Homo sapiens: one gene and its partners. The protein of the gene in region 1 interacts with the protein of each later gene in a pairwise test. Each region holds a gene or a part of one and is shown in the gene's direction. Other genes may lie near its edges. The genes, in order: ANKRD28, PPP6R3, PPP6R1 and YTHDC1.

What was found.
Region 2: the proteins of ANKRD28 (region 1) and PPP6R3 interact in binary tests that used the Homo sapiens proteins (3 or more experiments, as listed by UniProt).
Region 3: the proteins of ANKRD28 (region 1) and PPP6R1 interact in binary tests that used the Homo sapiens proteins (3 or more experiments, as listed by UniProt).
Region 4: the proteins of ANKRD28 (region 1) and YTHDC1 interact in binary tests that used the Homo sapiens proteins (3 or more experiments, as listed by UniProt).

The regions. Positions count from the first base shown.
Region 1 is NC_000003.12:15,794,970-15,801,856, reverse strand, and holds the start of ANKRD28 (serine/threonine-protein phosphatase 6 regulatory ankyrin repeat subunit A), read left to right. Parts: upstream 1-3,877; 5' UTR 3,878-5,335; coding exon 5,336-5,452; coding exon of another isoform or gene 5,453-5,461; intron 5,462-6,550; coding exon 6,551-6,634; intron 6,635-6,887. UniProt on the Homo sapiens protein: Regulatory subunit of protein phosphatase 6 (PP6) that may be involved in the recognition of phosphoprotein substrates. Involved in the PP6-mediated dephosphorylation of NFKBIE opposing its degradation in response to TNF-alpha.
Region 2 is NC_000011.10:68,456,473-68,463,766, forward strand, and holds the start of PPP6R3 (serine/threonine-protein phosphatase 6 regulatory subunit 3), read left to right. Parts: upstream 1-4,279; 5' UTR 4,280-4,355; intron 4,356-5,154; exon of another isoform or gene 5,155-5,228; intron 5,229-7,294.
Region 3 is NC_000019.10:55,242,007-55,249,031, reverse strand, and holds part of PPP6R1 (serine/threonine-protein phosphatase 6 regulatory subunit 1), read left to right. Parts: intron 1-1,922; coding exon of another isoform or gene 1,923-1,928; coding exon 1,929-2,155; intron 2,156-3,353; coding exon 3,354-3,540; intron 3,541-3,629; coding exon 3,630-3,767; intron 3,768-3,781; exon of another isoform or gene 3,782-3,846; coding exon 3,847-3,912; intron 3,913-6,543; coding exon 6,544-6,656; intron 6,657-6,752; coding exon 6,753-6,866; intron 6,867-7,025. UniProt on the Homo sapiens protein: Regulatory subunit of protein phosphatase 6 (PP6). May function as a scaffolding PP6 subunit. Involved in the PP6-mediated dephosphorylation of NFKBIE opposing its degradation in response to TNF-alpha.
Region 4 is NC_000004.12:68,340,085-68,347,109, reverse strand, and holds part of YTHDC1 (YTH domain-containing protein 1), read left to right. Parts: intron 1-7,025. UniProt on the Homo sapiens protein: Regulator of alternative splicing that specifically recognizes and binds N6-methyladenosine (m6A)-containing RNAs.

The DNA.
Region 1 (6,887 bases):
TAAAAAATAAGTGTCCTGGATCATAAATATATTACCTGCAGAGAGTTAAGTCTGATCTATTATGAGGATTTTGAGTTGTGTTTTGAATACCTAGTGACTTTCTTGCAGTGGCTCTAATAATCACATAGATAATTGCATGGATTCTGGCCTGTGTAGCCTAGAAAGCAGCTATTCCTTGATTTCTCCCCACTCACCCTCTACCTCATTTTCTTTTAACTCTGTTCATAAGACTTTTTTTTCCTAAAGTATATGGATAGATGAGGCGTAGCTCAAGAAGATTGGTGAGGATTCTTGATCTGTCAGAAATGTTTTCTATAACATTGTTTGAACCCACTTCCTTACCATCTTTCACCACAAGCTTTTTATTTTCAAATACTCAGAGACCAGCTTGTTACTTGCCACAGAGTAGCCACTTAATATACCCTGAGTATTCTATTCTATGATAATACGGAGTTCACAGATGTGTAAGACAAAAGGTGAGGTTTAGGTTGGATCTTGTTGCAGAAAGGAAAAATCGTTTGTGTCAAAAAAAGAAATTCAGGTGTAACAATTAGGAACCCAAAAATTATCTTCCAGTGACTTAATGTTTTTATAATCAGTAAAAAGGTTTAAGCCAGCTTTACCATTATGTGATTCCATTAATAGTAGGAGTAAGCTCTTAATAGGATACATTTTAGTATAAAGAATAGAAGGATTATAAAGCTGTCAGAGTTGAACTTGTTAGCTTATTAAAAACTTAATCTAATATGGCCTAAAAAATAAGTACCAAAGAAAATAACCACATCCCCTTGATATTTCTCTAAGTGGAAAAAAATGTTGAACTTACAGTTTGCACAATCTTTATCAGCAGTTTTTTATCAGAAGTACTTTCTCTGTTTCTAAGTTCTTAAATATTCACTTGTCTCCTTTTAAGATGTGAGTTCCTTGAGGGTAGGAGCCTGTCTTATTCAATAGAAGAAGACACAAAACAGTGCTGCTAATTTAAATAATTTAAAAACTGACATATTTCTCTTAGTATTTTTTATCTGCTTTTGATTTTATAATATACCATGGGCTAGTACTTTCTATCCTTTTTCCCAAAGGAATTTTACAGTCCCTAAACTGTAAAATCTAGTGAAGGTAGAAGAATGGAAGAACCTGTAGTCTTTCTTGCCTAAGTTTACTGCTCCCTCTCCCCAATTAACACTTAGTATGTGCTTGTCTAGTTACTAGAGTCTAAAATGAGCTTTTAGCAGACTCTCAAGAGATCACTGAAAAGTGTGGGGACTTGGCAACTGAATGGGATCTCCAGACATTAATCTGAATTACCTCACTTGTACTGGGTCAAGAGGAGGAGGAGTTTAATAGCCTTTGATCCACTCACTGGCTTCACAAGGGATATCATTCAGCTATCCCAAATATCCATAACAGTAAGGTTATCTTGTTTAGATTTCACAACACTATGAAGTAAATTCTGTTAATGTCATTTAATAGATGTTAAAATGAGCACAGAGAGGTTACTAAATAAGTGAGTAGCCCAGGATCCCAGAATTAGGTTAGTGGGAAGCCTGGATTAGAACTTCAGGCAATTTGACCACAAAATAGCCTACATTCTCAAGCACTGTACTGTTACTCTATTTCTCTTAGACAAAAATCTTTGCAGGTTATTTTTTTCTTATATAAGTGTCAAGAAATTTAGGCTTAGGGAATTTAAGTGGTTTGTCCAAGGACACAGCTAGGAAATGATGGAAGCAGAATTGAACTTCAGGTGGGCTGACTCCTGAGCCCTTAGTTTTAACCATCACCCCATACCTTTGTTTTATATCCTGTCAACTTCTGAAATTTTAATTGTTCACTTATTAGAGATATGAAACTCACTTTGTTGCACCTTAATGCCACCTATATTTTCTGGTTAAAATATATGTATACCAACACACCCCCACTATTCTTGTTTATAAATCTCCACCCTTCCAGAGTCTCGTGACGACAGAATTCATTTCAATGAAATTATTTATAGGTGGAAGAAAGTGGAAGGAGACAATATGTATGAACACAGTCCCTACCTTCAAGGAGTTTGTTTTCTGGTTGGGAAAGACCTAAGTGTGGAGGTTGACTTAGAACAAGAAACAGGATGTACCTGCTTAAGTCTAAGTAGGTGAACTTAGGTACTAGATACTTTGGAACAAGTTAAGATTGTTAAGATAAAAAGAGATTTTGCTTTGTGGGCTTGGGAACCCTGAAGATGAAATATAGGATATTGTTACTATAGTTGTTTCACTTTCAGATATTTCAAATATTAAGATTTTTTGATTCAGCTATGTGGAGATGGATAACATAATTGATGTATGTTCAATATTTACATACCTTTAATTTGGCATAAAAGTATTTTATATATTTTAAAATATAACTAATGAATTGTTAGCATGTTTTAATTGGTACAAATATGTTAGAGTTATTGCTTCTTCCATAGATTGATACATTTTATAGCTTTCAATGGTTCTTGTTTTAAATTCTGACATTCTTATATTTGTATCATGCTGGGATTTTTTGTTTTTTTTTTCCTTTTTATGGTTTTAAGACTTGCTTTGAAGTACCCATTTAAAAATAACTCGTTTTAGAATATAGCAATAAATAGTATATTCCTTTGTTACCTAAACTTTTCACAACCTTTATAGGTTACCTGTTTGTTAAGATCACTTTTATAAGCTAGTATTACAGGTTGCAAAGATCTGGAGATGAGTGGAGAGAAGAGAGTGTGTCTGTATGTGTGTGTACTCAGTGATAGCAGAATAGATTAGAAAGAGTATGTGTTTAAAATAACACACAACTTTATTAATTTATACAACTTTGGGTAAAATACATCATTTCTGAGTCTGTTTTTCCCTCTATAATGGGAATACAGCAAGGTTATTGTATTAAATGAGAATGTACAGCACATAGCATATCACAGATGTTCAAAAGTAACTATTATGTTTATTATTGTTTATTAATAAAAATGCTAGTTAATATGAAGAACACAGATTGAAGGGGGACCATGGTATTTTCTTTGTAAGTTTTCTCTTGAGAAATATCCCCCATGTTGGGTAAACAGAGAAAGAAGAAAAAAAACGATGAAATGATTGGCTTTGACATTTATTTATGGCTTTGGGAAATTTATAGGGAGGGAGATTATTTGTATTACCCTGTGCCCTTTTGACATAGGTAATTCAGGACGAAGGACATTTTTTTTTTCATGTACCTCTTTAACAGATTTTTAAGGCTTTATTCCCTATCCAAATGGGAAGGTAGGATTATTTTATTTCTTCAGTGAAAAATCAAATGATTTATATAATTTTAGAGTTAGGATTTCTACATTATGAAATTTTTGCTTTTCCCTTTAAAATATGAATCAATGATTGATTAAATTCACCAATTTAGAAATTGTTAGACAATCTTAAATTTCATTTGTTTAAGCTTTGCATTCTAGAAAATAAAATACACCTGGCAGATTAAAACTGATCTTGGTAAAAATATGAATAAAACAATTTCATGGTTTTTATAATCTAATAAAATATTTCTCCATCTTTAAACCTTTTTTATGAGTCCATTGCAGGCATATTCTTACTGCAACTGTCATTATAGGGTTAAACATTTGCTTTATTGTAACACACGAAAGCAGTTAAGCCGTTTGGAATTGTTTACTTGCTAAAACCACTGTTAGTCAGCAGAGGCAGTACACCAGATTTCCTTGTGGCTTTTAGTGGAAAATGTTAAAAGCGCACTCATTTTTCAGTTATAGAATTTTTTAGTTTGATTTGGATTAGTCACAGAACTGGCATGAACCTTCTAATTGTGAAGGCTGTCCAAATGCACTATTTTTTTCTCCTGCTAGAGGAAGTTACATCCCGAGAAGTAGCTCAGATCTCTGGTAAGTGTAACATGTGAGCATTACTAGGCATTTCATCCTGTGGGTCTGCAGTCTTTGCTCTTCAGACTGTTGCTCCGTTGGAATGCTTCTGTGGGACTGATACTGAGGTTCTATAGATATTTTTTAAGGACCTACTCATTTGGGGATGTCAGTGGTGTTTTGCAAGATCATCTGAGGAACAGGAAAGCATTTGAAATCTGAAAAGGATAACTGTGGCGGTTTTCACAGTGGAAGGAAACTATATTGGCAAAGAGGCAGATGACTGAATAAAGTAGTTGGCTCAAAGAAGATGCACAGTCTGCTATTTTTTTCTCTGAATGAAGACTGTTTAATGGAAGCTGTATTCATGTGGAGATCAAAGGAAACACTGGAATGATACACTACTATGTTTTTCCCCCCCCTTTTTTTTTTTAAAGAAAACAAAAAGCCTGAAGCAGTAATTTGAGCTCAAATGCCTTCTAATTCCTTCACAGCCTGCTTGTTCTACTAGGATTCTCCACTAACACCATTTCTGCCTGGTGCCTGTGCCCTTTTGCTGGAGCAGCCACAGACAACTGCCTGATGGAGAAAGAATGAACGCTCTGCCTTGCTTATGCTATCGATGGGAATAAAGCTAACTGTGTTTCTTCTATTATATGGGAAACCTGGATTAATCAAGCTGTATTCTAGTACCAAGAGTCGTATTGTCTCTTGTGGTCTGACTCATCACATGTAAACGTACTGCAGCTTTGCTATTAATGCAGAGTGGTTTTTTTTTTTTTGTTTTTGTTTTTTGCCCCTTTCCCAAACACTGAAAGAATTGTTAACCTCTGAGCTTCATTTTCAGGATTTGTGCTGAGCTCTAGATCTTTTTTCTGTGAATAGTATCTGCATTAAACCAGTGATGAAGAAATGAAGACAAATTAGAAGTGGAAACAGAATAGTGAGATTTTATTTTTTATTTTCAATTATAAGCAAAACAGCTACTGGTAACTATATGACCTTGCAGGCAAGAGTGGGTATCGCTGTGATCATCTCTGTCACAGCAGTTGTTTCTCATTTCATTCTATATTGTGTGGTGTTGTGTCACCAAAAACAATGATTGTTTTGTGCAAGTAAATTTCAGAGATAGAGCAATAAGACTATTTTGGTAGAGGAAAAATATTTTTAAATGAGCTTGGACTCAGTTTTAGTTATTGACATGTTGGTGTGAAATTTCTTCTTAAGTATTGCAGTAATCCAACAGAAATAATAGAATTTCGTTATATTTAGGAAGTTACAAATTATGTAGTCATAATTTTAAACTTGTTTTTCCAGTAGTACTTATTAACTTTAAAAAAAAAAAAAACCCAGCTGTGCTGTTCAGAGAATGTTTGTAAGTGTTGTACAGAAGAGGAGGAAAAACTACTTGTGCTCTTCCAACTGTGACTTTTATCACATAGCTTGGAATTTAGTGTTTTAAAAGATCGAATGAGTCGAGTGTGTATTGTTGTTTTGGAGGAGGTAGAAGATGAATCTCCTGCATTCATTTCTAAATTGCCACAGGAAAATAAATCCCTACATTCTCCACCTTCTGGAAATGTATTGGTAAGATATGTAAGTTTATATGTTTACTATATTCTACTGAACTAGTAGTATAAATCTTGTTTTTTAAGAATAGATGTAAATTTCCAATAGTTTCTTTACAAACCCAAATTAAAGCAATACGTGTGTAGATATGATGCAGTATTTTTGTATAAAATGCACATTTTTCGTTTTTACTTTTTTGAATGCTGAGATAACATTTCAGTCTTTACTATGTCTTAATCTCTTTAAAAGACTGTTTAAAAATAATTTGAGAATTAGTAGTTATGGCAACCACGTTTCTGTTTTCATTTTGTGGTTTCAGAAACTGATGTAACAAGAATCAGGAACTCTGCATATTTTAGGAAAGGTTGACTACCCCCAGCAACACTAAGGCATGGCCTTTTCTGTAATGAATTTTATGTATTTACATATAAGACTTTATATGAGATTCAGTCTTCATCTTTAACCTTGGTTTTAGTGCTACTGTCAGCTGGCTCCTTGACTAGTATAGTATACCTTATCAAGAGGCTGTATCGTTGATTAAGAAATTATTATATTTAGTTATGCATGTGTTTGTCTTTTCAAGTTATTTAAGTATCCAGTATTTTTTGGTCTTTGATTAGTGGCTATTTTCATCAACTGCCAGGTTTGCTTTCTTGGGATTTGTATCTTTATACATGTAATGCTAATCCATGTAAGATAATTTGATGCCCCAAACAGACCTTTTCAAAAAAGCCTTCCTTCATGGGCTGGAAATTGCTTAAAAAGTTCTGTCCCACAAGTAGATGTTGAGATCACACATTTGTATTTGGAAGAGTCTTTCTTTTTGTCATATACAGAAACAAAAGGCTTCTACTTACAAGAAATAAAATCTGATTTTGTTTATTATACTACCTAAATTGGGTCAAACTGAATTGATTTTTTTTTTTAATTAGGCCTTTTTTTTCCAAGTAGGAATCCTGTACTTTGACATGATTTGGTTTTATGAAACTTCTGGCTAATGTCAAAAGTGATTATTGCTACAGGGAAGAAAACTTGTAGATTCCAGAACTATGTAAAATATCCTTAGTCACCCCACATGGATGATTCTAATGTTTTTATTACTCTCTTCTATTTTAGCCATCACTGGTGCAAGCTATATTTAACGGAGATCCTGATGAAGTTCGAGCACTAATATTTAAGAAAGAAGATGTTAACTTTCAGGTAAAACAGTTAATTCACTGATGCCAGCCTTTAAAACTGCTTTTTAAAATTCTTTCCTAGAATTGTGATTTTTGTTTACAAGACATAATATAACTCTGTAACAGTTGTTTTAAATGAGGGCAGGAAGGTATTGAGGCAAAAGGGAAAACACTGGACATATACTCAGGGCAGTAGCAGCCAGTAGGGGTCTTTTGTTCTCCCAGCTTTTTACTTTGAAATTTTTCAAACATAGGGAAGTTAAAAAAACATGCTG
Region 2 (7,294 bases), on another chromosome or scaffold:
TCTCCATGTTGGCCTCAAACTCCAGACCTCAGGTGATCCGCCCACCTTGGCCTCCCAAAGTGCAGGAATTACAGGTGTGAGCCACACACCCGGCCTGAACTTCTTCAATTTAAGCTCTTCTTTATTCAGAGCTAGTTTTTCCTGTGTTAGTGTATGTGTGTGTTAGCATGTCCTTTCTTTTATGAAATTATGATAATAGTAAATACTTAAAAAAAATCATTACAGAATTAAAATTGGGGGCCGGGTGTGGTGGCTCATTCCTGTAATCCTAGCACTTTGGGAGGCCAAGGCAAGCGGATCACTGGAGGTCAGGAGTTCAAGACCAGCCTGGCCAACGTGGTGAAACCCTGTCTCTACTTAAAACACAAAATTAGCTGGGCGTGGTGGTGTGTGCCTGTAATCCCAGCTACTCAGAAGGCAGAGGAAGGAGAGTCGCTGGAACCTGGGAGGCAGAGGTTGCAGTGAGCCAAGATTGTGCCAATGCACTCCAGCCTGGGCAACAAAGCAAGACTCCATCTCAAAAAAAAAAAAAAAAAAATTAAAATTTGGCAGCTCTGAGTCTGTTCCCAAAATTTAAGTCATGATAGCCAGGTGATGGGTGCTTGAGCATGCAGCCTGCTCTTCTCTCTGCTTTTGAATATGTTTGAAACTATTCAGTTACATGTGTGTTTTTTTAATAATTTGTTATTAATTTTTGCGGGTACATAGCAGGTACATATATTTATGGGGTTTTTTTTAAAGTCTAGATGGATTGAAAAGTTTAATATTAATATGAAACATTAAACTACAAAAGGATCAGGAGGAAAGACAGAAGGTGGTGATCCCTGAAATCTAGAAGTTTTAGGGTAGAGACGTCAATCTGTGTAGAATGCAAAGCTTCTAAGTCATTCCTCTGCTTAAAGCCTGTCAGTAGCTCCCCATGGCTCTCAGGACCCAGGCTGAGCTCAGATACCTCCTCCTCCAGGAAGTCCTCCCTGACTTCAACCTTCTGGTTAGGTTAGAAGCAAACCATAAGTGGAGACCTTAGGGGCCCACTTACGTTGGGCAAGGTACTATATGATTTCATTATAATGTATATGGCCCTGTGACCCACCTCAGAGTCAGGGATGGAGGAGCCTGGTGCAGATACTGGCAAATCCTTTGATGATGAGTGAGTATAGGGATGCAAGGGTCGGTGGGGGTGTTGGGTCCTCCCTGGGCTCCCCAGCACGGAAGGACGGACGGGAGCCCAGCCCTGGCTGCCCCCTCCTGCCCATGGCCCAGCCTCCCTCTCAGGCACCAGCCAGTCCCAGGACTCTCTGAAACCTTTCCTGGGCTCCTTAGTCCAGCTCCAAGCTGCCCCTCTGGCCCTGTGCTACACCTGGTGCTCCCTGCTCTCGCTTCCAGCCATCTTCTCTAGAGTATGGCCAGCCCTTCTTCTGCCCGGAAGCTTTCCTTGGCTCCCATGGTCTGAGCATAAACCCAGGTTCCTCCGCCTGGCTTCCAAAGCCTCCATGGTCCCTTCTGCACCTGCTTCTCGAGCTGTTGCCCCAGACCTGAGATCAGCCCCACCCTGCCTTCCACGGGGTGTGCTCCTTCCACCTTGCTGCCTCGGCCTCTTTCCCTGGCATGGCCGCTCCCGCCCTGCCCAGGTGATCAGCCTGTGAATCCCCTCCCTAACCCCCACACAGAGCACACCTCCCAGGCTGGCTTCCGGCTTGACTATGTTCCTCCATGCCTCTCTGAGTAGCAGGATCAATGTGAGAAAGGTCTGCCCTGTCTGCAGCCTCCCCAGAAGCACAGTACTTTTCGTGGCGCGTACACGGGCTGGTAGATACAGTTGTCCCTCTGTATCCGTGGGAGATTGCTTCTGGGACCCCCAAGGATTCTCAAGTCCCATATATAAAATGGCTTAGTACAGTTAACAACAGAGACGTGTTCTGAGAAATGCATCGTTAGGCAATTTTGTCCTTTGCAAACATCACAGGTATACTTAGCACAAACCCAGATGGTCTAGCCTACTACACACCTGGGCTATATGGGATAGCCTATCGCTCCTAGACTACACATCCATACAGCATGTTACTGTGCTGAATACTGAAAGCAGCTGTAACACAATGGTAAATATTTGTGTATCTAAACATAGAAAAGATCCAGTACAGCTGGGCGCGGTGGCTTACGCCTGTAATCCCAGCACTTTGGGAGGCTAAGGTGGGTGGATCACCTGAGGTCAGGAGTTCAAGACCAGCCTGGTCAACATGGTGAAACCCCCATCTCTACTAAAAATACAAAAATTAGTGGGACATGGTGGCATGCACCTGTAATTACAGCTACTGGGGAGGCTGAGGCAGGGAGAATTGCTTGAACCCAGGAGGCAGAGGTTGCAGTGAGCTGAGATCGCCCCATTGTACTCCAGCCTGGGCGACAGAGCAAGACTCCATCTCAAAAAAAAAAAAAAAAAAAGTCCAGTACAACTACAATATCATAATCTTATGAGACCAGTCTTTTTTGTTTTTATTTATTTATTTATTTTTTGAGACAGAGTTTCGCTCTGTCGTCGAGTCTAGAGTTCAGTGGTGCAATCTCGGCTCACTGCAAGCTCCGCCTTCCGGGTTCACGCCATTCTCCTGCCTCAGCCTCCTGAGTAGCTGGGACTACAGGCGCCCGCCACTGCGCCCGGCTATTTTTTTTTTCTTTTTGTATTTTTAGTAGAGACGGGGTTTCACCGTGTTAGCCAGGATGGTCTCGATCTCCTGACCTCGTGATCCACCCGCCTCCGCCTCCCAAAGTGCTGGGATTACAGGCGTGACCGCGCCGTGACCTCCTGTGGATTTTCATGGGACTCTGAGAGGCGCCTCAAATCCATTTTGGAATAAGGCAGGTTATTAGCATGGGGTCTAACCGTGGGCTGTCTCGGTGTCCTGGGCTGGCTCTTGGGGCGGGGGTCCTGATGTCCGGGACCTCGGTCCTACCTGGGAGGCACAGATATGGCGGGGAACGGGAAGCCCGGGGGAGCATTTAGAAGCTCGTGTGCACAGGGAAACCCTGTCTCTACAAAAAAATTAAATTAGCGGGGCCCAGTGGTGCGTGCCTATGGTCCCAGCTACTCGGGAGGCTGAGGTGGGGGGACTGCTTGAGCCCAGGAGGTGGAGGCTGCAGTGAGTCATGATCACCCCACTGCACTCCAGCCTGGACAACAGAGCAAGACCTTGTCTCAAAAAAGACCCCAGGCCAGGCGCGGTGGCTCACCCCTATAACCCCTGCACTTTGGGAGGCTGAGGTGGGCGGATCACCTGAGGTCAGGAGTTCGAGACCAGCCTGGCCAACATGGTGAAACACCCGTCTCTTCTAAAAATACAAAAATTAGCCGGGCATGGTGGCGTGCACTTGTAATCCCAGCTACACGGGAGGCTGAGACAGAACTGCTTGAACCTGGGAGGCGGAGGTTGCAATGAGCTGAGGTCGCACCACTGCACTCCAGCCTGGGGGACAACAGGGAAACTCCGTCTCAAACAAAACCAAACCCCAAAAGTTCTCGTCTAAGTCCTTCTCCCAGGACAAGGGCACTTATCTCTTGGCGGTGCGTCACAGGTAGGGATATTCCGCGATCCCTCACCTTGACCCCGCTACGAGGACAGCCACCTCTTTCAGGTAAAGAGATCGCAATGGGAAATCATTCTGATAAAAATTCCCCTGTGGAGAATGCAGGCATCGATCCCGTTACCTCTCACATACTAAACGAACGCTCCTCCACTTAAGCTGATTCCCTAGCCCGGCCTAACCTTTGCAGCCGGCGCATATTGTGGCTCACGTCACCACCGGTGTCCCCCGCCGCCCCCGCCCCGCCCGGCCAGCTCGCCACCCTATTGGATCCCTCACGGCTCCGGCTCCACGGCCATGATGGGCTTGGCTCAATTTAGTTTTAAAAAGCATTGGCCACTCGGATTGGTGGTCCGAAGCGTCCGTCAAGCGGAGGACCTGCTGTTGCTACGGCGTAGGGGGTCCCAGCCAGGTTTCTCCCCGTTTCTGATTTGTTTCTCAGGCTCCGGGGTCCTAGAGGTTCCGGATCCGTCAAGTCCATGGGAAAAGAATGCGCCCCTCGCGCTTGACTGACGAGGCTTGCGGGCCAATCGGAATGTAGTCAAAGGAGCCGCTAGGCGATCCAATAGGTAGTAGGGGGCGGGAGAGAGGGGCCAATGAGCCTGGAGCTGGGGGCGGGGGCAGGGCCGCGATTGGCTGAGAGGCGGCCAGAGGGCGGGCGGGGGGGAACTCAAGGCCTGCTTGATACGTCCGCCATTTTGGGCGCTTCGCTGATGGTGTCGGTGAGCGCGTTTCCCGCCTGAGCGCAACTAGCGGCGGGTCGTGGGCACCTCCAGGTAATGGGGGTAGGGGAGGCGCCGGAGCAGGCCGCGGCGCGGGGTGTGCGAGGCGCGCGGGCAGGCGCGGGGCCCCTCCACCTGGCCTCAGCGGCTCAGGGAGGGAACGTCCCGGCCCCTCTCCCCTCCCCCCCCGGAATTCGTCGCTCCGCGGGCCCGGGAGGCGCGGCGCCGAGTCCTTCCCGGCCGCTCCCCGTCCGCTCCTGTTAGCCGGGGGCCCCGCCAGGACGGGCGCCGGGAGCGGGACGCGGTCGGGGCGGCGACTTTGTGCCTCGTTGACGTTCGCGGCCTGGCGCGGCGGGCGGGCGAGGCGCGCCCCTGACCCGGCTCTGGCTCCAGCCTTCCCGCCCGCCGGCCGCGGCCCGCAGTCTCGCCCCCCGCCCGGCCCGCGCCCGGTCTCCGCTCCCGCTGGGCCTCCCGGGGGCCTCGGGGAGCGCGTCAAGTTGAGGCAGCAACTCGCCGTCAAGAGTCGCGAAGACCATTGTTGGACTCTGCTCTTCGGGAAACAAGTTTTGTGGGTTTCTGTTAATTCGCCGCAGAGTCATCGGGATCCACACCAGCCAGTTCCGAGGCTCCCAGTACCCTTCCCAGTGGCTTTTTAACTCCTGTGAGGTGGCTTGTATGTAAACTGTCTCGAATGCCTCCCTGGTGTATTTGAGCCGGGGGTGGGGGGGGTGGGTGGTCCTTCTTGTGGCTTGAAGTCCCTCCCTCTTAAAGAAGCCCATTCACTGTTTACTTGGAGGTGTTTCCTGTTGAGGTCCTGCTGGCTGTGATCACAATTTAGACTTTTTAATTATAGGTGAACGGGATGGGTCTTTGGATGTACCTCCGTGCCCTGACGTTTCAACCGCGTGACTTAATGTCATTTTCCTGGTACTTCACGTTTTCTCTGTGGGGCTTTGGGTCTGTTTTGCTTTTATGGGAGGGGGTGCTTGACAGGCGTTCCCTTTCATCCTCGCAGCACTTGTTGACGGGGTGGTGTCCTTTATTCGTGGGACGTTTACTTTGATTTTGTCCTCAAGGTCATGTTGCAGATAGGCTTCAAGGGGGACAGGGACTCCAGGTTTCCAACCACCGAACTGTGCCTCAAGTAGCAAGTGTATGAGACCCAGTTATGGTGGTGGTTGGGTTTTCCTCACTGTGGAGTGGAGTCAGTGACCACTTTTTAGCTCTGTGACCTTGGGCAAGTTACCCAGCTTCTCTTTTTTTTTCTCTGTAGTATGGGAATAATAATAAGTGTCCCAGCCATAAGTTTGTCAGGATAATTGCCCTAATACATGTAAAACAGCTAGAGCTGTGCCTGGCACATACAGTCACCTCAGTGGCTGATTAGTGGTTAGGCTAGTTAATGGCTATTATTGTTTAATTTAAATTTGATTTTTAAATGTTTAGGTACTATTGGGAAGTCAGATGAGCATTTGAGTCCCGACTCTTGGTGACTGCCTTTAGAAAGCTCTGTGTAAGACTCAGTTGGGCTGAAAAAGTAAAACTATAAGTTATTTTAATTTTTTCAGGACAGGGTTTTTGACCATTCCTTAAATTAGGAACATTTACCGGAGTAATTAATGAGTAGTAGCGCCTCATAATGTTTAAAGAGATGGTTAAATACAGAAAAGCCCATCACAAGCTTAAGTCGGGCTTTGTTCCTCATGTGCTTTTGGATACTAGTTTCTGGGTGACTGCCACCCGAATCAGTAACTAGGGTTTCTTAGTGTAAGTCCTCCTTGTTACTGAAAACTGTAAGGGTGCCGTGGATTGCAGTATTCTTCAGCAAAGATAGTTTGGGAAATAGCTTTTGTCCTGGAGGGATACTTTGGAAGGTATTCTCCACTTCAGCATGTCTGGTCAGGGAGTCTAGAACATTGAACAAAATGCCTGCACTCAGTCAGAAATAAACTCACAATCCTTTACCGCTTGCCCGATACTCTCCTCCATGGTGCTCGAAACCTTGCGTGCACCTTCCCCTGGTATTGTTGTGTTTACTTGGGACTTGGTTTGCTGTATTGGAGATGTGTGTTTTGATGGACTCAGTCTTAAGTAGAGATGAGTATCTTGCTGGTGGAACTTAAGGACAGGAAGAAGATTGTTTTCGGTTTAGAACTCTAGCCTTTGTGTAAAGTATAGCAAAGCAAAGTCAACAAGCAAAAAGTTGTTAGTTTCAATGAACTAATTGAGAATTTGAGAATCAGACCATAGCTGAGCAGAAAATGAATAGAAGTAACATTGACAGGATGAGGTTGCCTAGCTTTTTAAGATAAAGCTTTGGCCGGGCGCAGTGGCTCACGCCTGTAATCCCAGCACTTTGGGAGGCCGAGGCTGGCGGATCACTTAAGGTCAGGAGTTCGAGACCAGGCCAACATGTGAAACCTTGTCTCTATTAAAAATACAAAAATTAGTCGGTCATGGTGGCGTGTGACTGTAATCCCAGTTATTTGGGAGGCTGAGGCAGGAGAATCGCTTAAACCTGGGAGGCGGAGGTTGCAGTGAGCCAAGTCCAGCCTAGGAGACAGAGCGAGACTCAGTCTCAGAAAAAAAAAAAAAAAAAAAAAAGATAGGGCTTTGCACCTATTTGGTAGATTATGTGCTTGTTACAAATAAACATCTCTTTAAAACAAGTGTCACGATCGGTATTTTATTTCTATGACAACTTCCATTGTCTAGTTCTATATTTTCAGTATTTGAGAGGCAGCCTCTGTGTGTGTTTGTGTGTGTGTGTGTTTTGGTCTAAAATTTTACAGTATTTTACTAAATAAGAGTAAATGATAGTGAAAATAAAGCTCTTCTATCTGCTCAACTAAAACTCAGCATTGACTTGGTCCTTAGAAGTTATGGTCTGCACCCCAGTATTGGCTGCTACTTTTTCTAATGTACTGAAAAAAAGATCTGGCCTCTTGGCTTTAAACAGCTTTCATATTTCTTTCCTTTCTTAACTTCAAATG
Region 3 (7,025 bases), on another chromosome or scaffold:
TGTTATATCAAGATTGTTGCCAATCTAGAGTTACCGAGGCAGACGGGCAGACTGGGAGCAAGGTCTGGACTGCAACCTTCTGTGCTGAGCCCAGCCTTAGGGTGGTCAGGGTGGATGAGCAAGGAGATCCTGGCCCCAGGCTGGCCTGGCTTCAAGCTAGCCAGGAAGGAGAGGAAAGGAGGCCCAAGAGGCGTTCGACCTGCCTGAGGCCATGTGTGGGACTCTGTCCTGCGTTTTGTCAGCCCAGGCTGCTCTCCTAAGCTCCGATGAAGTCTCTTCCCTGGGCCTGGTGCTCCACGTCTCCCTGTCTCTTCCCTGGGGCCTGGGGCTGAGTCAGGCCTGGGGGCTGGTGGGCACTGAGGTGACAGGTCAGCAGGGCTCGAGGAGATGGTGGAGGCCTGTGCAGAGGGAATGACTGAACTGGAAGAAGCTGCAGAAGGGCATTGGAGGAGAGGGACTAGCATCTGTGCCTGGGAGTGATGGTGGTGAGGGCCTGCGGGAGAGGCACCCTTGGCCTCTTGTGCCGGCTCTGCTCTGTTCTCAGCATCCTCTGTAGTGACTTGGGGGTAGCAGTGGCCTCTGCCTTAGCTGGTGATGCGGTTGTCAGGAGGCAGGTAATGAGCGTGAGCTCTGGTCAGTGTCTTAACTGGTGAGAGCTCCGTGAAGGCTGTCTGCTGGGACCAGATGGCCTTCGAGATTCCAGGATGCCGCCTGACTTACCGGGCTTTGGTTGCCCCTTGTCCTGTGTGGCGGAGTGATGACAGCTTTCTTGGGGGCTGCTGGTGAGCTTGGACATCATGTGCACAGCACACATGCAGAGCCAGGACCATTGTCATCAAGTGCCCAGAGCACAGGTCACAGGTCAGGTCTGTAGTGGAAGGTCTGTGTGGAGGCTTTCTAGGGCTCTGCGGAGCAGTGATGTAGTACAGGGCAGGGGCTCAGAATGGAGTTGCCTGGCATCTTGTTAATACTCTGTGTGTGTTTCCTTATTGCCAGTGAGTTCCCATGCACGAGCGTTTAGGGGCTGGAACCAGGCTGAGGAACCAGGCACTGTCCTCCAGAGGGCGGGAGCCAGCTCCAGATGGGGACAGGGTCAGGGCCGGGTGTTGCCAGCTTTGTTCTTCCCCCACAGAATCTGTCTATCCCACCCTGGGTTCCTTCAGGTCCTGGTCAGTGACTATTCTGGGAGCCCCTCCCTTCCAACTTTTCCTCTTCCTTGTTCCAGCCCAGGTGCTGGGTGAGAGGATGGTTGGGGTGTGTTTGTGTGTGAGTGGTGTCCAGGCAACGGCCACAGCCTGGAGATGCACAGACTTCCTCTCTTCCCCCTGCCGCCGCCCCATGCCTCCCACGTAGCCTTGGGGGATTTGCTGGGCCAAGCAGCAGCCGTGTGCTGGAAGTCATCGGGCATCTGAGTTTGTTGAGCAAATACAGGTTGAAGCAAATTTGAAGCCAGAGGTTAAGGCCCTGCCTCTGCAGTGTCTCTCCCAAAAGTAGGGATAGTGGACCCAGACCCTCATGGGGAGACAGGGCCCGAGGCCCCTCAGTGCACAGGGTCCAGCCTCTTCTCGCAGGCCCTGCACATGGTCCACACCTGGGGACTTCACCAGGCCTGAGGCCTCAGGTGTGAAATGACCCCCTGGACCTCAGGCGAGGCGGCCGGGAGGCTGGAGATGGGGGAAGAGGGGCAGGCTCGAGGGCAACTGCAGGAGCCTGGTGCTCACTGGGAGCCTTAAGCCTGAGTGATGGAGGCAGTGAGCCTGCGGGCAGTCCCGGGGCGGGGCCGGGCTCAGCATGAGGCAGAGGGCTGGGACTTGGGGAGAGGCTGTGCCCAAGGTGGGCACTCAGCCCCTGTGGTCAGTGCCTCGTCCAGTGGGGACTCCCTGGGGCGTCTGACGCGGCGCTGGTTGTGTCTATGCCTGCAGGGCGCCATGTTTTGGAAGTTTGACCTGCACACAAGCTCGCACCTGGACACGCTGCTGGAGCGGGAGGACCTGAGCCTGCCCGAGCTGCTGGACGAGGAAGACGTGCTGCAGGAGTGCAAGGTCGTCAACCGCAAGCTGCTGGACTTCCTGCTGCAGCCACCCCACCTGCAAGCAATGGTGGCCTGGGTCACCCAGGAGCCGCCAGATAGCGGTGAGGAGCGGCTGCGCTACAAGTGAGTTCCCCAGCTCCTGGCCAGCCCGTCCCTATCAGCATCACACATACCTTCACTACGCAAGCCTCACAGCTACCCTGAAATGCGTCAGTGTCAGTAAACTCCAGTTTGGGGATGAGGAAGACGAGGCTGGGAGCAGCCAGGCTCCTGCACAAGGCCTCACAGCTCACCGGGTGCAGACCAAGCCTGTGCTCTGGAGGGCAGTGGCACAGTCACGGGTCACGGCAGCCACAAATTCACGGGCCCAGGTGATCCTCCCGCCTCAGTTGCCCGAGTAGCTGGGACCACAGGCATGTGACGACATGCCCGGCTGGTTTTTCTCTTTATTCGCCGCCTTTTATTTTATTTACTTTTTATTAAACTTTTTTTGTATGTTTGTGAAACACTTGTCTGCTATTGAAGACACTTTACTTATTTTTTAATCCAAGCGATGCTGAAAAGACACTTTTTTTTTTTTTTTTGAGACTCACTTTATCACCAGGTTGGAGTGCAGAGGCATGATCGGCTCACTGCAACCTCCTCCTCCCAAGTTCAAGTGATTCTCCTGCCTCACCCTCCTAAGTAGCTGGGACTATAAGCCAGCACGCCCAGCTAATTTTTGTATTTTTGGTAGAGACAGGGTTTCGCCATGTTGCCCAGGCTGGTCTTGAACTTCTGACCTCAAGTGATATGCCTGCCTCAGCCTCCCAAGGGGTACCTCCCCACAGTCCTGGAGCAGACTGTGGCCCCTCAGGGCCTTGAGTGGCACGCTGGTGGGGCAGCTCTTGTCTTGGAGCCGTCAGGCACCGTGTGAAAGTTTGGAGGAGGGAGGCAGGAGGTGAGGTTGGAAGTTGAGCAAGGTTCCAGGAGTCAGCCGGAGCTGGGGCAGCATACGGGGTTGCAAGTGAAGCCGCTGAGAGGCAAAAGGGATGAGTGTTAGCTGCTGGGGGATTGGGAAGCGCAGGAGCTTCAGGACCAGCTTGTCTTGGGGGTGGTAAGGAGCCTAGGATGGGATGGTTGGGTGTTAGCAGGGTGGAGGAGGCCTGGTGTGGGCCCTTGTTTCTGCGTCACCCTGTCCTCTGCCCTTTCCCCTTCCTGGACAGGGGTCTCTGCAGTTCCCAGAAACCCAGTGCCCGGTGCAGAGAAGAGGGTGGAGCCTTGCCGCCCCCTGCCCCCGGCCTCCGACCCGAGCCCCCACCCGCCTGTGCTTGCCTCCCAGGTACCCCAGTGTGGCCTGCGAGATTCTGACCTCAGATGTGCCCCAGATCAATGATGCCCTGGGTGCTGATGAGTCCCTTCTGAACCGGCTCTACGGCTTCCTGCAGAGCACCGGCAGCCTCAACCCACTGCTGGCCAGCTTCTTCAGCAAGGTCATGGGCATCCTCATCAACCGCAAGACAGACCAGGTGCCCTGGCCCCCACCCTGGCGCCACCGTGGGTTGAGGGGTGGTGGCTGGGCCAGGCCCTGTGCATGACGCAGCCCGTGTGCCCCCAGCTCGTGTCCTTTCTTCGGAAGAAGGATGACTTCGTGGACCTGCTGCTGCAGCACATTGGCACCTCGGCCATCATGGACCTCCTGCTGCGCCTGCTCACCTGTGTGGAGCGGCCTCAGCTGAGGCAGGATGTTGTCAATGTGAGCAGGGCCGGCTCCTCTGGGGGTGGGGGGCTGGGCGTGGTGGACAGCGATGCATCCCTCGCCTTCTCACCCTCAGTGGCTCAACGAGGAGAAGATCGTCCAGCGGCTGATTGAGCAGATCCACCCGTCGAAGGATGAGAATGTGAGTGCTGCCGATGCCCCTGCGGATTCCCCTTAGAGTTCCTTCCCCATGCCCACTTCCCCACTTTTAAAAGAGGAATTGGGGCTGGACGCAGTGGCTCACGCCTGTAATTCCAGCACTTTGGGAGGGCGAGGTGGGAGGATTACTTGAGCCCATGAGTTTGAGACCAGCTTGGGCAACATAGTAACACCCCGTCTCTACGTAAAAACTTAGCTGAGTGTGGTGTTGCACACCTGTAGTCCCAGCTACTTGGGAAGCTCAGGTAGGAGGATTGCTTGAGCCGGGAGGTCAAGGCTATAGTGAGTCATGATCACACCACTGCACTCCAGCCTGGGTGACACAGTGAGACCCTGTCTCAAAAAAAAAAAAAGAAAGAAAAGAAATTGGTGAGAAAAGAGAGCATTGAGAACCAGGTGTATCCATGCCCTTTGAGAAAAGGAAAGAAACTTGACTCAAGTGATTCTCCCACTGTGGCCTCCGAAAGTGCTGGAAAGGTTTTTTTCATGACCCAGGAACTTGGCACATAATGCCTTGCAGGGAGGGGCCCTCCTCATCGCCTGTCCAAGCGCTGGCCCCACATCCGTCCCTGCCCACCCTGGCCTGTGCTATTGCTGGGCCTGGCAGCTTTTTCCCTGTCTCCTGCCTGATTGAACCCCTTGCTGTCCTTCTAAGTGTCCGTCCAGCAGCCTTGCTTTCAAGCGCCCTCACATCCTCCCCTTTAGCTCTGGGGGACCCCATGTCCATGTGTTTCTCCAGCTTGGGTCTCCATCTCTGTCCTGGTGCCCAGCACAGGGCCTAGTGTAGAGTGGGTGTTTGTCAAGAGCCTCAGATATCCGAGGCCACTGGGAGCAACATGTCCTTCCCAATGCCAACTTCTGCCTCAGAGGCGCACAGGCTTACAGAGCAGAGATGGCTCTGGGCTCACCCAGGCTGGGGCCTGTCCCTGTGAGGACCCTGAGGCATGGCCCAGGGCCACACTGCCAAGCCCTGGCAGCTGCCCGTTGGGTAGACTCAGCTCTGCTTATGCTTCTCTCTTTTCTCTCTTTTGTAGCAGCTTTACTGAGATGTAAATTGCACAGCATACCACTCACCCACCGAAGCTTACGATTCAGCGCTTTTAGGGTATTCAAAGCGTTTATCATCTTGTTGAATTTAGATTATTTTTTATCACTCCAAAAAACAAGTCCTGCCTGTAATCCCAGCGCTTTGGCAGGTGAGGCTGGAGGATTGCTTGAGCCCAGGAGTTTGAGACTAGCCTGGGCAACATAGCAAGACGTTGTCGCTACAAAAAATTGAAAAATTAGCTGGCATTGGTGGTGCACACCTGTAATCCTAGCTACTCAAGAGTCTGAGACGGGAGGATCTCTTGGGCCCAGGAGTTCAGGGCTGCAGTGAGCTGTGATGGCACCACTGCGCTCAAGCCTGGGGTGATGTAGAGGCCGTGTCTTTTTTTTGAGACAGTGTCTTGCTCTGTTGCCCAGGCTGGAGTGCAGTGGCGTGATCTTGCCTCACTGTAGCCTTGACCCCCCTGGGCTCAAGCAATCCTCCTGCCTCTGCCTCATGAACAGCTGGAACTAGAGATGCACACCACCATTCTTGGCTAATTTTTTTGTATTTGTAGAGATAGAGTTTTGCTATGTTGCCCCGACTGGTCTCAAACTCCTGGGCTCAAGTGATCCTGCCACCTTGGCCTTTCTTTTTTTTTTTTTTTTTTTGAGATGGAGTCTCGCTCTGTCTAGAGTGCAGTGGCACGATCTCGGCTCACTGCAGCCTCCACCTCCCAGGTTCAAGCGATTCTCCTGCCTCAGCCTCCCGAGTAGCTGGGACTACAGGCGCCTACCACTGCGCCTGGCTAATTTTTTTATTTTTAGTAGAGATGGGGTTTCACCATGTTGGCCAGGCTGGTCTCAAACTCCTGACCTCGTGATCCACCTGCCTCGGCCTCCCAAAGTGCTGGGATTACAGGCGTGAGCCACCGCGCCCGGCCCCACCTCGGCCTTTCAGACTGCTGGGATTATAGGCATGTGCCATCACACCCAGCCGAGACCCTTTCTCCAGAAAAAATAAAAAAGATGCCCTGTGTTCATTAGCAGCTCCTCCTGATCTTCCCCTTTCTCTTCTTAGCCCCCGGCAACCACCAGACTATTCTGTCTCTGTGGATTTGTCTTTGGACATTTCATATAATTGGAATCATGTACTACGTGATCTGTGTGTGGTTTCTTTCTCTAGCATGATGTTTTTGTGGCTCATTCATGTGGTTGCATGTATCAGTTTCACTCCTTTTCCTGGCTGATTAGCACTCTCCTGTGTGGATAGACCAGCTTGGGCATATTCACTCATCAGTCAGAGCCTTCTGGGTCATTGTGGGCGGTGCTGCCAGCCCTGTATGCGGTCATGAGGGCCTTGTGTGGATGCCTCCTGTCCTGGGGAGCCTTCCGGGCTTCCTGTTCTCTCCACCATCTTCCCTCCAGCAGTTGGTGCCTCTGTGCCCTCCTCCTTCGTAACACGTGTCCCTGTGTCTGGGTGACCATTTTTCCCTGGATGGTCAGCTCATGGGAGGGGCTCCCAGCACCAGGCTGCAGAGGGCCCGGTGGCCCGACCAGGATCCTCACCTGTCTCTCCCCGTTCCAGCAACATTCCAACGCATCCCAGTCCCTGTGTGACATCATCCGCCTGAGCCGGGAGCAGATGATCCAAGTCCAGGACAGCCCAGAGCCTGACCAACTGCTGGCCACCCTGGAGAAGTGGGTGTGCGGGCAAGGCTAAGGCTGGGGGGAGCTGACTTGGGGAAGCCCTGGGCCCCTGGCCCCTCACCCTGACCCCTGCCCCTGCCCCCGCAGGCAGGAGACGATTGAGCAGCTCTTAAGCAACATGTTCGAGGGGGAGCAGAGCCAGTCTGTCATCGTCAGTGGGATCCAGGTGCTGCTGACCCTGCTGGAGCCCAGGAGGCCGAGGTGAGGGATACGGGCCACAGACCATGCATGCTGCCCATCCCCAGGGGCTCTCCGGCCCCTCAGAGGCGGGTCTCGGTGTCCACCAAGAGAAATCCCCGCCCGTGGCACCTTGCTCTGTGGCTGCCTGTGCTCCCTGCACAGTGGACAGTACGGGGCCGA
Region 4 (7,025 bases), on another chromosome or scaffold:
TTCTTTGTATACAGTAATTGTGTTTCAGTACCTTGAGTATTTACCAGGTTGGACTTCATTGACTGACTGGTTAAATGACATGTGCAGTATGATAACGAAAGCTAAGAGTTTCTCAGTTTAAGTTATACAACAGTTCTCCCCTGACCCCCAACCTCTACCAGCCTTATTTTCCTGGTAAATACGTTCTAAGATCCACAGTGGATACCTGAAACAATGGATATTACTATATCCTATCTATACTATGTTTTTTTCTATATGTATATACCTATGATGAAGTTTAATTTATAAGTCAGGGACTGTAAGAGATCAACCACAACAATAATAAAGTAGAACAGTCATTACAGTATGCCATCATCACTACTCTTGTGCTTTGGGGCTATTATTAAGTAAAATAAGAGTTACTTTGAACACTGACACTGCCATATGTGGACAGTTGATCTACTACCCGAGACAGTTACTAAATGACTAATGGCAGGTAACATATGCAATGCAAATATTTGTTGACCAAAGGGATGATTCATTTTCCAGGCAGGACAGAGTGGGACAGTGCGTAATTTCATCACACTACTTAGCGCACAATTTAAAACTTATGAATTATTTCTGGAATTCTCCATTTTTATATCTTTGGACAGTGATTGACTCAGTTGACTGGGGGTAACAAACCCTCAAAAGCAAAACCTTGGATAAGTGAGGGACTACTGTATATATACACACAGTTGTTTTCAGACGGCTTCTGTCGCCTAGGCTGGAGTGCAGTGGAGCAGTCACGGCTCACTGCATCCCCAACCTCCCAAGGGCTCCCTAGTAGCTGGGACTACAGGTGTGTGCCACCATGCCCAGCTAATTTTTTATTTTTAGTAGAGACGAGGTCTTCCTATGTTGCCCAGGATTGTCTTGAACTCCCGGGCTTAAGCAGTCTGCCTGCCTTAGCCTCCCAAAGTGCTGGAATTACAGGTGTGAGCCACCGTGCCCAGCCGTTATACAGACGGTTACATGCAGGTGTGTGTGTATATATATATATATATATATATGTACACACACAGTCATGTGCACACACATGCACACAGTCACGTGCACACAAACACAGTCGTGTCATTTAACAATGAAGATGGGCATTGTTAGGCGGTTTTGTTGTGTTATCATAGTGTGTTTACACAAACTTAGGTGGCATAACCTACTACATATCTAGGCTGTATGGTATAGTCTATTGTCCCTAGGCAACAGATCTGTTGGGCGTGCTACTGTAGGCAGTAGTAACACAATGGGAAATATTTGTGTATCTGAACATCAAAATGATGACTGTGCCACAACATTTGTATATACTATGTGTATATACTATGGCCCTCACTATAGTAATTTCTTAGGATAAAATTGCCTGTCTTGGTTCACTTTAGTTTGGGCTCTGTAAGGCATAGAGTACATATTGATACTCCAATATATTTATTTTACCTATAGTATAAGTAAGGTAGAAAATTTAAAATGATATCTTTGCACTTAAATTGTATGTTTTTATAAGAGCGGTTTTGGATGGGAAATCCAAGTTTTTAAACTTCATTTGGAGGAATGACGATTTTCAATGACAAAAACTGAGAAACTGGTCTAAATGTACAACGTACATTACAAGACAATAGAAGGGGGAGGTTCTAGTAATCTTGCTCCATTGCCAAGTCCCACTAAAATTATATTAAATGAATTAAAATATAATTTATTTTGGTACCTTGTGTTAGAAAACAAAATGTGTAGTATATTTAGTATTTAACTTTCCTTAAATACTAAATCTTAGTCTGATGCTGGAACCTCACATGTTAATAAATAGCACTGTCTTCTGACCCAGAAGCTTCTGCAGTAAAAAATGACTGTCCCAGATAAAGGTTAATTTTCTACCCTGATATCCCTAGAGTTAAAGTTTGTGACCTTCCTGGCCAAGAATGTAAAGATTATGGTAAATTTTAAGTTCCCATGTTTACCTAAAACAAAAATCCCCCAGCCAAGCAACAAACAGCTAGCTTTGTTATTTCTAACATCTTGTCAGTTTTTGAACAGGCCTTAAAAATAATGATTTTTTTTGTTGTTGGCGGGGAGACAGGGTCTTACTCTGTTGCCCAGGCTGAAGTGCAGTAGTGCGATCAGGGCTCACTGCAGCCGCGACCTCCCAGACTCTGGTGATTCTCCCACTTCAGCTTCCTAAGTAGCTGAGACTACAGGTGCGGTGCACACCACTAATTTTTGTGTTTTTTGTAGAGATGGGGTTTCATCATGTTGCCCAAGCAGATTTCAAGCTCCTGAGCTCAAGCTATATGCCTGCTTTGGCCTCCCAAAATGCTGGGATTACAAGTGTGAACCACCATGCCCGACCTGTTACTCTTTTTATATCCTTGTTTACTTCCTGTATCCTGGGAATCTGTACCTTTACCTCAAAACTCATTTTGCTATTAGTTTGTGTATAATATTAATACAAAACATTCACACGTGATTATACTTTCACGGAGGAATCTAGCAGCCAACTGTGGAATCTATCAGCCAGCTGTTTCATTTTTAATTGAGGCAGCACTGAAGAGTCATGCAATTCCAAATAAAAATCTGGGTTTCAGAGTCCTCTTGAAAATGTGGAAGATCTGACAACACAGTGCTTGCAACTGTCAAGGAAGTTAATCTTCTGGAGTTGAGTAGGATTGTCCCCTTTAGCTTTCCTCCTCTTTCCCAAAGTATTATATACGGTATACTAAAACTAGTTTGATGTTCCTGTGCCTTAGTGTATTAAACTGAGCCTTGGGTTTTTTCAAGTTTAAGATCAGTGTTATGCAGGGGTTGCAGATGTGTGTGCATGCCAGAATCTGGCAGATAAAGATAAAGTACTTGCTTAATACGTTAGGTATCATGAGTTTGTTTTTTTTTTTTTTTAAGAGCCAGCATGCTCTTTGTTCAGGTAGTAATACTGATTCACCAGATACAAACTCATTCACCAGATACAAACCCAGATTGTCTCATGCAAAACTTTGACATATGTTACCTTCTCTGTGTCTTAACAGAAGACTAGACTCTTCCAGCTGGTTGTTTTCAGGTGAGAATCTGGGCCCCTAATAATCAAATAGTATTTTTTTAAGTGGGTTTTCATATTAAATCCTTAGAATTTTTAAAAACAGCATTCAAGAGCTGAGTTTATCCTCTAGACTGCTAGTGTAAAACTTTTAGATAGATTTGAATTTTAGCTCTAAATGTAAATACTGTTTAATGTAGGATTGTTTCATTAAGCTTATTTCTTGAACTGGCACATTATAAAAAAATCCATCTTTTTGTGACATCTTAATTTTGGAACAAAATTTTATAGATTTTAACCTGAGGTCAGGAGTTCAAGACCAGCATGGCCAACATGGCAAAACCACTTCTCTACTAAAAATATAAAAATTTAGCTCGGCGTGGTGGCAGGTGCCTGTAATCCCAGCTACTTGGGAGGCTGAGGCAGGGAGAATTGCTTGAACCTCAGAGGCGGAGGTTGCAGTGAGTTGAGATCATGTCACTGCACTCCAGCCTCGGCAACAGTGAGACTGTCTCAAAAAAAAAAAAAATTTTTTTTTTTTTTTTTTTAAAGATTTTAAGTGATTTTTTAAGGCCGGGCACGGTGGCTCATGCCTATAATCCCAAGACTTTGGGAGGCCAAGGCAGGTGGATCACCTGAGGTCAGGAGTTCGAGAACAGCCTGGACAACATGGTGAAACCCTGTCTCTACTAAAAATAACAAAAATTAGCTGGGCATGGTGTGGCGGGCCTCTGTAATCCTAGCTACTCGGGAGGCTGAGGCAGGAGAATCACTTGAACCTGGGAAGTGGAGGTTGCAGTGATCCCAGATTGCGCCACTGCACTCCAGCCTGGGTGACAGAGAGAGACTCTGTCTCCAAAAAAACAAATTAAAAAAAAAGTGATTTTTAATGTCTATAGTTCTCTATATAGACATCTAAAAAAGGCTTTCAATGTGAAGTGCTTTATGTCATAGAAATTAGGATTTTTGTAGTGCATGAATTGTATGCTTATAGGCCTTTTCTTAACCTGGCATTTCTAATCTTTGTTTACTGTTGTTATTCTTGGGTTGGGATACTACTGTCAAACTATTATGAAGTAATTGAAAGTATACATATCTCTATATAGAATATCAATAATGTTAAATTTCAGGACAAAGGAAATGGTTAAAAACGTTTGTTCAGGTAGGTTAAAAGAAAGTCAACCTAGAACTAGTGGATATTACTTTATATCTAAAAGAGATAATTATTTCTTTTCAAAAAGGATATGCCAGTGATGATTATAGTCTTTAACAGCAGTAGCTTGTGAGAGTATTAAAATGTTTCTTCTTTTATAATTCATTCTACGTTAAAAAAATGAATTAAAATGTATGCAAAGTGTACTTTTTCAAGTCAGTGAAGAATATGGCCAGAAGCAGCAGTTTACATTAGCTTTATAACTTAATACTATAAGCTTTAACATTGACCTATTTAAATGAATTTTTGTTATTAAAAATGCACCTCAAGTATATAATTAAAATATTTACCCTTAAATAAAACTATAGTAATTTTGGAAACATCTGTCATGTATTATGTATGACACTTCTGTCAACAGTGATTGGAATATGTGTCCCCTCTGTTTGAAGCTAGGTAAGCTTTTGTGATGAATAAATACTGTGATGGTGTTGCTGGATTTCTACCTGTTCCCGTCTCTGTTGGGACACGAGAGTCCTAAACTACCATGTAAAAGATCTGCCTACTCGGTGGTTGCCATAGTAATGAGTAATCACACACACAGAAATGTTGGAGAAGCTCCAGCTTTGAATCTTCCCAGCCTAGACATCAACGAGACTTGTCAATGAACAAGCCTTCAGATGATTTCAGCCCCAGCCCCAGCCCCATTTGACTGCAGCCACATGGGAGACCCCGGTTGAGCCCTGGAACCATGAGCCATAATGAAAGGTGTTACCATTTTAAGTCAAGTTTTAGGGTGATCATCTTATACAGCAGTAGATAATCAGAACATGTATGCATATACCATACCTGTTTTGTTGAAGAAGGAATTTTGTTTTGTGTTCTGGACCAGATTTTATATATATCACATAGCCCAGTCATTAGCAAGAGGGTTGGGGCAGGCAGGTTTTATTAAAGTCCAATAGTTATAAGGAAGGAGAGTCTTCTTACAGGTTGAAAAACTCATAGAAGATTCAAATGTCCTGCTTTTCCTTTCCCCAAAACTGACCTTTTTTAAGTGCCTCTTATCAGAGGTGAAGAATCTTGAACTCAGAAAGACTGGGAATTTCCTGATACCTAAATGCAAGCTATAACCTGCATTTCCTTAACCTCCAAGACTTTTCCCCTTGTATATTATATTCCAGTGTATATATAAGGAGTTTCAGTGATGGAGAAAAGTACTTAAAATTTGGTCATTTGTATTATATCAGGGGTTGGCAAAACTCTTTGTAAAGGGCCAAATAGACTTTGTGGGCTGTAAGTGTTCTCTGACATATTCTTTGCTTTTTTTTTTTTCTTGTTAATAAGCGCCTTAAAAACGTAAAAACCATTCTTGCAGGCCATTCTAAATAGGCAATGGGCCATGTTTATCCTGTAGGTTTTAGTTTGCCAGTTTGTGGTAAAACCACACAGTTTATTGATGTTATGGACTATAATACGGATAAAAGTGTGTACATCATTTAAGTGAGGGTGTTATAGTTGATTTTGAATATTTCAGTAGATTTTAAATGTTGTAATGTTAAAGATATAGAGCTTTCTGGTGCACTAATTTGAAATTTATGTTCTAGTATATATGCCCTTTTAATATTTTGCATTTGTGTTCTTTATACTTTGGTTAAAGTTGCTTTTATTGTTCCCCATCTGATTTAACTGTCAATTTCTAAAGCCGGAACTTCATACTAATATCCATTTGTTACTAGACAAGTGTATTTGGTCAACTGGAACATTTGAGCTTCTCTTTCTTTATCTGCAAAGTAATGAATGATTAAACATGCTCTATTTTATATGATTTGTATATATGATATATTTTAAAAGTGATAAAATTTTAAAAGTGACAAAGTATTTTTAAAAAGTAGTAAGCATTGGTTAATATTTGTTGTCTTGAAAAAGGTTGTAGGTGCTTTCTAAAACTACAACCAGTATCTGAATTTGAATTCGTTAAAACTTTAAAACAGTAATACCCCTTTTTATAGGAAAACCAGGCTTTAAGTGTGTTTGAAACTTAAATTTATTTAAATTAACATTCTGCAAAATTATTTCATTCTGTATTAAATTTAGCATGTCTAAAGTATATAATATAAATGTTCAGGGTTCGGGGATGATATTTCTGAATAAGATCTAGTGATTTTATGAAAAGATTTGTATAGCATTATTTGCCTGTTTCATTGTGATAGTCTTGAAATTTTTTCTTTTTGTCTTCTACAAATGTATTTGATTCTGTGAAGACCTGTTGGATCTACTTTTTTACTGATTAGTGAGCTTTGACCCAGTACTTATTAAACATCTGTAAAACATTGATTTACTTCTATCAGACTATTTTTTTTATAATTTAGAGTCCGAAAATGGTGTTTGCCACCATTCAGATCTTGAAGAAATTTTTCTTAGCAAAAACATGAATCTAGATGATGAGAGAAGCTTTTTTGTTTGACATATCTTGATTTTAAATAAGATTTTTTAAAAGTAAACAAAAATAAAAACCCATATAGCCTGTTTTCATTTTAGAAAAATGATAGAAAGTACATATCAGCATTGGTACCACCCAAAATGATCAATTTTGCTATTCCAGACATAGTAATTTTCAGATATCTTTAGATTGTGTCTGTTTCCAAATGTAAAGGAAAATGATATCTTTTCCATTTCCTATGTAACCTTATCGTTTGTATTAACTATTCTCTTCAGTCACAGATTTCTTTCCCACTTTGGGGAAAATTTGAATCCCATTTAACCTGTTTATAGCCCCCAGGTTAATTAATAGACCTTTCTGTAATTCATGTGGGCTTTGTTTTTTTCCTGAAGCCA